Linked DNA regions of Homo sapiens: region 2 is linked to region 1. The links come from fine-mapping of genetic effects on gene expression. A gene starts in region 1. The other region holds a variant in brackets. All regions are shown on one strand. Distances are between the middles of the regions.

What was found. PIP is the estimated chance that this variant, and not a neighbour inherited with it, causes the effect. A credible set is the group of variants that fine-mapping cannot tell apart.
Region 2: its variant is the best candidate, but not a certain one, in a credible set for the expression of LINC03083 in caudate (GTEx, PIP 0.51).

The regions. Positions count from the first base shown.
Region 1 is chr20:20,967,484-20,972,870 of GRCh38, forward strand. It overlaps LINC03083 (long intergenic non-protein coding RNA 3083), which reads left to right and starts at 2,965. Exons shown (of 2, transcript NR_186504.1): 1 at 2,965-3,065; 2 at 4,669-5,079.
Region 2 is chr20:20,941,886-20,947,272 of GRCh38, forward strand. No RefSeq gene overlaps it. Among named protein-coding and RNA genes, the nearest start is that of LINC03083, 26 kb to the right of the region's middle. The variant A/C (reference allele first, on the strand shown) is at 2,059.

The DNA of each region.
Region 1 (5,387 bases):
CTATTGTAGCAAAAACAATGAGTATGATCTTTTTTTCCCGATGAAGATCCTGTTTAATGTCTTAAAAATATTTTGTAGTGATTTTTATTTTCATTCCTTCTTCCTCCAGCTCCTTTCCTGAATATGGAACCAGAGTGTCCCTTGTTGTGAAGCATTCCTGGGAAAGAGGCGCTAACCTTGTATCGCTTTTGAGTGTAATATACATTTTTCATTTTAAATGGGAGCTCATAATGACATTGTGTGGAAGGGATTCCAGGCCTCTGTGATTATCACCATGTCTCCTTGAGCTGCGCCTCTGGAAAAAAATGTGAAGGAGGTAGCCCTCTGGAATGAATAAATCCTGCCGCCTGCCTGTAATTATTTATTAAAATAGATTAAAGAAATAGGCTAAAAAGGAACCCGCCACCCATGTTAGAGATAGCATAATAAGAGTACATAGAAAGGGAAAATTAACACCAGGGAGGAAGGAATGTTAGATATGTGCTTTCAAGAATACGGCCATGTCTGCATTGTTGGCTTACACGCAGACACACGCTCGGGTTTTTCATTTGGCAGGGTGGGCTGTGCTGATGAAAACGTGGGTTACTAATACTGATGTGTATGTCTCTAATTAACATTAGAATTGAGTGGTAAACATAACTAGGAGAGCATTCAAGAGAGAAATGGGCTAAAAGAGAAGCCAATGTGTAGAGAGGAGGGGGAAGAGACGGGTTGGAGAGAAGAAATCGGTCAGCCCTTGTTCAGATGGGTTTAATTTAGTCACTTGAGTCAAAACTGGAAACCTGTTTTCTAGTACAATTGCTTCTGTGTTTAGTGGGTGCTGTCCTTGCAGGCGCCTTTCATTGCAGGTGAATTTTATAAACAGCACACCATCATCAAACCATCTTGGGGGTCAACTTTTTCCACTTGTGCCTTTAGCTCTTACGCAAGTACTTTTATAGTGTCTTCTAATATACAGGATTTATCTTCGGTTCTGAGAAGAGCTTTTAAACTTAATCCCTCACTGGAGTACTAATTTGTTTCTTCATCCTTAAACCAGTACTTTCGGTTAACTTTCATCAGAAACGGTAGATTTCTTTAGTATGGCCACTCGAGAAACATAGGTTTGTGTTAATTTTTTGTTTTGTTTTGTGGCTGTTTTTGTTTGTGACTGCTGGGAGAACAACAGGGTGGGGGAGATTTTGATGATGGTCGCTGATATTATTCTTGTATTTCTGTTTCTTAAAGTTCAAAGTACATAACTGGAAATACCTGTGGACGGTTGCCTTAAAAATATTTCTAATCATATTCGCCTAAAGAAAATAAAAACTACTACCTATTTTTAAAAAAAGGAATGCCAGAACTTATTTTTGCTTTTTTATTCTGGCTTTTCCCATGATATTTGAGTGGAATAATATGCTATGATGTTTATGTATGAAAAACAGAATACACTTGCATATGTTATGAGGAAGAAAGCTGCTTCTAGGAAAACGAACTTTTTTTTTCTTTTTTTATGTTTTAGGAAATGATTTATCAAAGTAACAAAATAACTCATTGGGAAAGCAGTGTTATTTATAAAAACAATCAGCCTTTGACTTCCTTTCATTTTTATAAGGCTAATGTAACAAGGATGTTGCAGAGGCAAAAATGAACTCGAATCCTTTTAACCATATGAACACTTATGAATTTTATTGCAGCTCCTATGTAACCACTTTATTTAACCAACTAAATAAAGCATGTACTTTTTAAAAATATTTAATGTTCAGCACCAAAAACTGTATCCAAAGAAAATGTACATTTCCTGTGTAATATCTGCCTTGCCTCGTTAATTCGTTAGAAAAAAATATATACAAACATATCCAGGGAAATGCTTTGGGTTTTTTCTAAAGTCATAGATGTTTGTGTAGAAAGGAATGGAACCATCTTCACACGTGAATTGAAAGCGGAGATCTTCAGTGCTGGAGTTCAGAAAATGAAGAGAACTTACAAAAATGTACAGCTGGGAATGCCATTCCAGTGGATCTTCCCCACCACGAAGTTATTACTGTGTGAACAATGTTCATTAGCTTTACCAATATTGTACTTCTGTTTATCTGCCATTACCATCTTCACAAAGTAAATCACTCCTGTTCTTCCCAGATCGCATCTCTTCCCCCACCCTCTGAAAACCAACATTTGTTACCCATAAGCAGGGGGGGACGCTTAGTGATAAGTATAATAGCTTAAATTGAATTTTCCTTCGAATGATTTAGTGAATACTAGAACACATTTTTACTTTGTTGTTTAGACTCAAGAAGGCATAAAATCTCCGCCATCTATTTATCATGTAGTTATTTTAATGTAAACATGTGTCCGTTTAGATGAAGTGTTTTCATTATTAAGCTAATTCCAACGTGTCTCAGATAGACCATGAGAAGGGAGCCGAGCTCTGGCTGATGGGGAACCGAAACCTGCCTCCGCTCAGCCTGCTGTCAGATATGTCTTCATTAGTTTTTTGTCATTCACCGGTGGCAAATGCTGTATAAATGGAATGATGATCAGGCCCGCCTTGATAACTTGTCTTATCTCATTAGTTTTCACATCAAAGTTAATCAGCAATGTGAATTGTAATTGCTAGAGGAGACAATGCGTAGATCGCTGGTTGCTTTTTTCCCCCTCCCCTGTATGGCATCTTGAAACATCAGCAGGCTGGCTGGAGCAGATAGGCTCGGAAGGAAAATGATGTGGAAGGCATAATAAGCGAGCTGCTCAGAATTAATGAGCTAACCCAGTAAGAAAAGAATGGCCAATCAATGTGAGTTGGGCAAATATAATTTAGAAATAATTGCTTGATTGGTTGCCTATAGTAGACTGATTTGACCACATACAAGGATTAAGAATTAAGATGTCAAGGCAAAAAATAATTTGGCAACTGAGGGCATGTAATTTTTTGTGTCCTTCCCTTTATGATTGAAAGAGATGGGTGTTTGAGATGCTATTCGCCAGAATGAAAACATTAGACACCCTCTCGTTCTCTTTCTGCTCCTCTCACAATGCAGGCCCATTCAGAACACAATTGTGATACTCCTGGACAGGACGTGAAAAAGGTATGGATTGAGAGAGAGAGAGAGAGAGAGAGCGTGTGTGTGTATGTGTGTGTGTTCCCATTTATTGCAGTTATGCCCAAAGGATGAATGGGTTGGTACATAAGGTGTTTGCATCTGCGCTGAGCTGCAACATCATTGGGAGGCATGGCAAAGTGAGAGATGTGGATATTTGCAAAATACGTCAATTGTCTGTCCTCGGCCGAAGAGTTCTGCTCACATCCTACATGTTCCTAATGCAATTTTCCCCACAGCTATTCACCAATTAGTAGAGGGCCCTTGCTATATTCTTCTGTCTAAACTATTGGGAAGGTTCAGCCAGAAGGTAAATTTGCTTTGATCTACATTACACCTAATTGAGTCACCAGCAATGTCTCTATCCCAACATCAAGAAATGTGAAAATGTTAGATTATTTCACTGGGGATTAAACCTAATTTTCGTGTGTTCTGCATTAACCTATTAGGCTGGCTAATCTGCATTGCTAATGTGACTGAGGCAGCTGTCACAGCTAAAGAAAAACATGATCATGCAATCCTTGAATGAATGATTCCCAGCCTGATTAGTCTTAGTGAAGTTAGCTGAGCCCTGGTGATAAGGAAGGAAAATTCCCAGGTTGCCAATAGCTTTGAAAATTATCAGACTGTAGGCAAAAATATACCTCATGATTCACAGGCTTCGGTCCAAATACCGAGTTGAGTGACATTATTTAAGACTGACTAAGGCTAACTCGAATTGTCGCTCGCATAAATGTTTGTGTTTATTTTAAGGGACTAACGTAATGGATGCAGATTTAAATGCTAATAGACGCCAGCCAGACACATAAAACCCCAGGCATTGTTACCCTGTTGGTCTTTTATTAACATAGATTAAATTGTAATATTTTCTAGATAAATTGGCAAAATCAGAAAGATGCATTGCCCCCCAGAATGCTCGATGAGGACGACTTTTGCAGGACTTCTGGTTTTTCGGGAGATGAGGATCACAGTAGTGGAAGTTTACACGTTCACTACTCTCATTATCAGTTTAAAAAAAAAGAAGAAGAAGAAAAATAGGGGAAAAATGTGTTTATAAGGAGGAAAATAGATTTCTGCAGCTCGCTGGCCAGAACCACTTTCTCTGTCTGTCCACTTAATTGGGAGGACTCGGCACGCATTTCTCCTCATCCCTGTATTTTGTTCGCTTGGAGAAGGCTTCGCTGCAGTTTCAAGACTTTGCGTGCTCCTCTCCATTTGATTTCAACAGCAAGAGAGCCACCATGATGGGTACCCTTCAGATGTGGAAAGTGTTCAAGGGAGTTTGGTGGCTGCAAATAGAGCTGGGAGTCCATTTAATCCGATTAGCAGTTCCGCAAAATGGGCCTCGACCCATTGTGGACAGAAGCCTTTACTTTATTTGTTTCCATTAGCCAAGAATCAGTTATCAGAAAAGTGGAATTTTGCCCCATCAGATTGCCCAGACAATCAACAGAAAATAAATGAGGAAATAGTCTAATGTGTCAATATTTGTCTTTTGGCCCTAATTGTCCACAGAGGGGACTTGCTGAGTGTGTGAAGTTGGCAGCCTGGGTTTATCTGTGTACTCTTGATGGTTTTTCCCACTGTGTAGGCACCGGAGCCGCTACGTGCACAGTAATGACATCTCAAAGGCCAACAGCACTGGCTGGAGAATAAAGGCGTTTTAAAGGTCTAAGAACACTGGATTGAAGAGCCAAGGAGAACCCTTGATGGATGAGGAGGAAGGCAGAGCCCAGCAAATGACAAGGCATTTGTGACCAGGTTTCCAATGCCGGAGTGAGGTAGAACAAAAGTACTGAAGAGACAGGAGCTTCCGTTCCTGCCCCGGTGCCAGCTTGTCTTTCCCGTTTCCCAGGAAGCTCAGCTGACTACAAGCCTACGGGGGTACGGCCCTCCTCTTATTTCTGTTGCCTCTTGTTAGTTGAGAAATGTTAGTGTCTCAAATTGTTTTAGTCCCTCAAATTGCCTTTAAGGATAATGGTAATAAAATGATTTAAGCTACAATATTTGAGTATTCACTATTTACCAGATACTATTCTAGGCACCGAATATTTGATTTCCCCCCAAGCCCCATGAGATGCTGCTATCATTAGGCCCATTTTACAGATGAGTCACTGAGGCCCTGAAAATAATTTGCCCATATTCACTCCACCAGTGGCCATAGAGCCATGCCTTGAACCTAGGCAGTCTCACAGGCTTTTCATTACCACTGGACCCCAGATTCCAGGGCCAGGCCTAGAGAGCCAGTGTCTCTTCAAATTTTACACCCTAAGTACCCACCAGAATCCCCTTCCCAGACACCTTCCTTCC
Region 2 (5,387 bases), 26 kb before region 1:
CAGGTGGCAGAGAGCTGGTGTCCTAGGACTGAATTGTTTTTGCTCTCTCAGAACAGCTTCTACCAGGTTGTGTTTTGGCATGACCCTATCAATGTATCACAGAGGAAATTATAGGGGAAACCTTCATGATGCTTGTGTTTGTATCTGCTGTAAGGACATTGTTGGGCATGCTCTGTGAAAAGGCAGGGGAGGGGGAGTGAGTTTTATTATGATTGATATTGTTGTAGTGTTAATTATTGACTATTCAAACAACCTCTTATCCACTATTCCTGTCTGCAATTTCCCATCACACTAAACTGCGCTGAATGCTTTTGCTTGCGTAATCTTTAAAATATAACTTTACTTATTGTACAACTATTATTGTACATATACAGATGCATACATACATATATATAGGAAAATATATAATATACAGACAAACATAGAGAGGGAAATAAAATTTATTTCTAAGACTTTCAATCAAAGATAAAGAGTCTGGATTTTGAATCTTGACTGTCCAGACTGGAATTCCACTTGCAGCATTTACCTTTAGCTAACTATTTAATCCATCTCTGCTGCTCAAATGGAATCTAACAAGATGTTCAAGCGGGTCTCAGCCCAAGACAATTGATGCTCCTTCCAAATAAGTTGCAAGTCCATGATATAGGTTTTATGAAAGAAGTGACTCGTGCTTGCTTTGTGACTTAATTGTTCACCCACAGAAATGGAATAAAAGGACTGGAGGCTACCGGAGAAGAAAGAAGATAATTTTTGGAAGAATTGATTCTGCTCTGAGTCCTGTACTCTCACAGAATAGAAAGGTTTAGATGTTCTGTTCATCTCAAGTCAAAGGAATAGTGCCTATAGAGAAGTTGAGGGCATGATGAGGTCTCCTGCAGTCATGAAGACACAGTGGACTGGTCTGACCCAAGCCTGACACCTTAAATGGAAAGAAACAAGCTAACTGTTCTGATGGCAAAAGGCAAAATGAAGTGGCTGCCCTGAGCAAACTTCACTCCCAGAGTCTCTGAGGACAAAGGATAAACAAGTGTTTCCTGTGTGTTATGCATGAAGGAGCATCTTCCTGGAGTCATCCCAGAAGCTGCCTGGGAGTCATCTGAAGAAGCAAAAAGATCACCTTTGAAAGGAGATGGAGATACCACCAGATGCTTTTTGGCTGGAGAAGGAGTTCATAACCAACCATCCAAAGAGAGACGCTTTCATCAGCAATAAGGTAACTGAATATGGCAGATCCCTAGGGAAGTAAGAGAACCCATAAACATGGCCCTTGACAAAAATGATGAGCCTTAAACACCTGCAAATCCAGAGAGTGCCAACACCAGCTCTCTACGCTCTCCAGGAGCCAAGTAACAATGTTCCCACCCCTTTCCCGCCTTTCCTCCTCAGCCCAGCTCCTCCCACCTACTTCCAGGTAAGTCACTCTCCCAGGCTGGGAAAGGGGAATAATGGCAACCATGAATGATGCATAAAGTATTGATTACTACCCTGAACTAGGCATATTAGCTATTGACAGGAAAATGGGCAGAAAACACATGAGACATGCTAATTTTAATCTATGGGCAAGAGGAGAATGAGTCCAAAGGGATCATTTTAAAAGGCAGTGGCACAAAGGAAGCTACTTTGGGATTATATCCTACAAACCATGCTGTTTCACCGTACTGGCAATAGGCGGATAATAATGGCATCTAACTTCATAAGGGGAAGGAATAAATGACCTCATTATGAAGAAATGAGCTAATGTGTGCAGAGCACTTAGGACAGTTGCTGACAATATTATACTACCAGCAATTTATTGCCTCTCTGATTAGTGGCTTGTTTTTTTGTTTTTTTGTTTTTTTTTTTTTGAGATGGATTCTCACTCTGTCGCTCAGGCTGGAGTGCAGTGGCACAATCTTGGCTCGCTGCAACCTCTGCCTCCCAGGTTCAAGTGATTCTTCTGCCTCAGTCTCCCAAGTAGCTGGGACTACAGGCACGTGCCACCACGTCCGGCTAATTTTTTGTATTTTTAGTAGAGACGGAGTTTCACTGTGTTAGCCAGGATGGTCTCGATCTCCTGAC[A/C]TTGTGATCCACCCACCTCGGCCTCCCAAAATGCTGGGATTATAGGCGTGAGCCACTGTGCCCAGCCTAATGGCTTGATTTTAGTTACGAATGTTCTCAGTTTAGAGTTCAAAAATTATTAAATTTCTATATAAATATACATATATATAATAAATATTAAAATTAATATATAAATTTTAATAAAACTAGATTGGTACAATTTTTAGTCATTTAACTACAACTCATGTTATTAAACATTTTTCAAAAGCAAACTTTTTATGGTTACAAATATCCCATCCCACAATAGCGCAATAATATGCTGAATCATTTAGCTGCTCCTGGATTATTTGAGAGTCATTGTGTTAATACACAGCTCAGCCTGTCAGCACTCTTCCTTTCTAGCCTTAAGTGCCTGTACATCACAGCATGCCTCCATCAAGTCAGGATTTTTGCCTTATCCCAAACAGGAGAGTAGCTCTAGCATCTTCATTTGTTTTTCACGCAAAGAACAAAAACTGTCTTGTTCACCAGCTCCTTTTAAAATTCTGTCCATCCTTCAAGCCAAGTTTAAATGCTGTGACTTACAGGAAGCCTCCCCTGATTTTCTTCTATTCCTTCACCTGCCTCCAAGTGGAAATATTTGTCATCTGCCTTGGTAGAGCTTGACACTTTCCATGGCACTATTATTCTTGTTTTTCTGTGAGAGTTACTGAATTTGTGTCTTATCTCCATATCTAAACAATAAGCAGCTTGAGGGTAGAGAATGTTCCTTTTTCATTGTGACATTTATTCACCAACATCTGAAAGTATATGCTACAAGTCATCCATTGTGCGGAGTGATGAGGGGACTAAATAAACAAGACCCAAGATGAGCATCATCATATTTAGTATGAAAAACAGGTATTGTGATAGGTTATATTAGTTTTTCCAAATACACACTTCCTCACTCTGTGAAAACATCATATCCACTAACATGATCCATTGATCCAATAGACTTGGCCCATTGACTTGCTTGGTGTTGCAGTTAGCTTTTGCAGCATAACAAAAAGCTTCACATCTTTGTAGCTTAAAACAGCAATGATGTCGTAGCTCATGATTCTGTGAGTTGGTAACCTAACCTAGGCTCAACTGTATGGTTTTTCTGCTGATCCTGCCTGGACTAATATTGGGCTCACTCATGTGACTGAAGTCAGGCACATGGGGCTCTGCTGAGCTGGATGATCTTAAACTCCTCATTCGTATGACAGGAGGCCAATAGGCAAAGGTGTCTTTGGGTGGGCCTCTCCAGAAGGCTAACTTGGACTTATCTACAGGGTGCTCAAAGGGCTGTAAGAGCAACATAAGAAGACAAGCACTTTTCTTTTCTTTTTCTCTTTTTTTTGAGATGAAGTCTCACTTTGTTGCCCAGGATGGAGTGCAGTAGTGCTATCTCAACTCACTGCAACTTCTGCCTCCTGGGTTCAAGCGATTCTCCTGCCTCAGCCTCCCAAGTAGCTGGGATTACAGGCATGCACCATGACATCCAGCTATTTTTTGTATTTTTAATAGAGATGGGGTTTCACTACATTGGCCAGGCTGGTCTCGAACTCCTAACCTCAAGTGATCTGCCAGCCTCGGCCTCCCAAAGTGCTGAAATTACAGGCATGAGCCATGGTGCCCAGCCAGACAAGCACTTTTCAAACCTCTGCTTGTATCACTAAAATGATAGAGAAAATTTGCTAGTCACCAGTGGAAGCAGAACATTTATGGCATTAAAAGAGTTCAGGCCAGGCGCGGTGGCTCATGCCTGTAATCCCCACACTTTGGGAGTCTGAGGTGGGTGGATCATGAGGTCAGGAGATTGAGACCATCCTGTTTAACATGGTGAAACCCTGTCTCTACTTAAAATACAAAAAATTAGCCAGGCGTGGTGGCACACACTGTAGTCCCAGCTACTCGGGAGACTGAGGCAGGAGAATCACTTGAACCTGGGAGGTGGAGGTGGCAATGAGCCGAGATGGTGCCACTGCACTCCAGCCTGGGTGACAGAGAGAGACTCCATCCAAAAAAAAAAAAAAAAAAGAGGTCATCATGTGCCAATTCAAATTAAATTGAAATTATGAAGGAGCAGAATCCATGAACAGCAGAAACTATGAGATTGAGAAAAATATAGAGAGAATAAACAAATGGAATCAACTGATAAGAGGAAAAACGAGGACAGATAAAGAGAGGAGCAAGGATTCCAAGAGAGTTCAAAAATCCCTGTCGGCTTTCAATGTCATTCCAAGTTCAACTGCCTACTTGTAATAAATTACAATAAATTTCCTCATTCCTAATTCATTTGAATGAATCTCTGTTCCTTGGGACCAAAAAGACTTACTATAACAAAGTTAGTGCCAGGAGTGGGGTTTCATGGAACCAGACACTCAGAAGATGTGCAGGGTGTTTGGAATAGTAATCAGGGCAGCAAGACAGTCTTTATAACCTGGGATCAAAGGCAATCATTCCATTATAAAGAGCAATGTAATGGTACATTAAGCTGCTGCTTGTGGTTGCCTATGACTCAGACTACCTCCATGGGTGAGGCTTTGGAGGTTTGTGTAGCCACAGAGCTGTTTAAAGGAGATAAGGTGGGGGCTCAAAACAGCTGTGAACAATTTCCAGTGGCTGAAGAATAAGTTCTGTATCTGGGTTGTGCAGCTGAAAGCAGACCTTTGGGAACATGGTGTGACCCTACTAAGTAATGCCTTTTATGCTTAGAACTGACACAATGAGTCCATTGAAAAGCAAGTCTAAAAATGGCCGTATGCATTGCTGAATTGCAGCATGGGCGAAATTCCCAATATTAACATTTTCTATCACCCAGGTTAAGTATCTGATTGATAAAGACTAGACTTTGCTAATAAACATGGTATATCTGGAAGATATTCAAAGATTTGGAGATCCCCTACCCTCTAGACTCTGAACACTTCCCATTTTATCTCCCCCACTGCCATCCTCATCGACGCTACTCTCTCTTCATTAATAATGGGCTGGCTAGGCGTGGTGGCTCACGCTTATAAATCCCAGTACTTTGGGAGGCCAAGGCAGGCGGATCACTTGAGGTCAGGAATTCTAGACCAGCTTAGCCAACATGGTGAAACTCTGCCTCTACTAAAAATATAAAAAATTAGCCAGGTGTGTTGGTGGACACCTATAATCCCAGCTACTCAGGAGGCTGAGGCAGGAGAATCACTTGAACCTGGGAGGTGGAGGTTGCAGTGAGCTGAGATCACGCCACTGCACTCCAGCCTGGGCAACAAGAGCAAAACTCCATCTCAAAAGAAAAAAAAAAAAAAAAAGAATGGGCCGTGGGCTGGGCACAGGGGCTC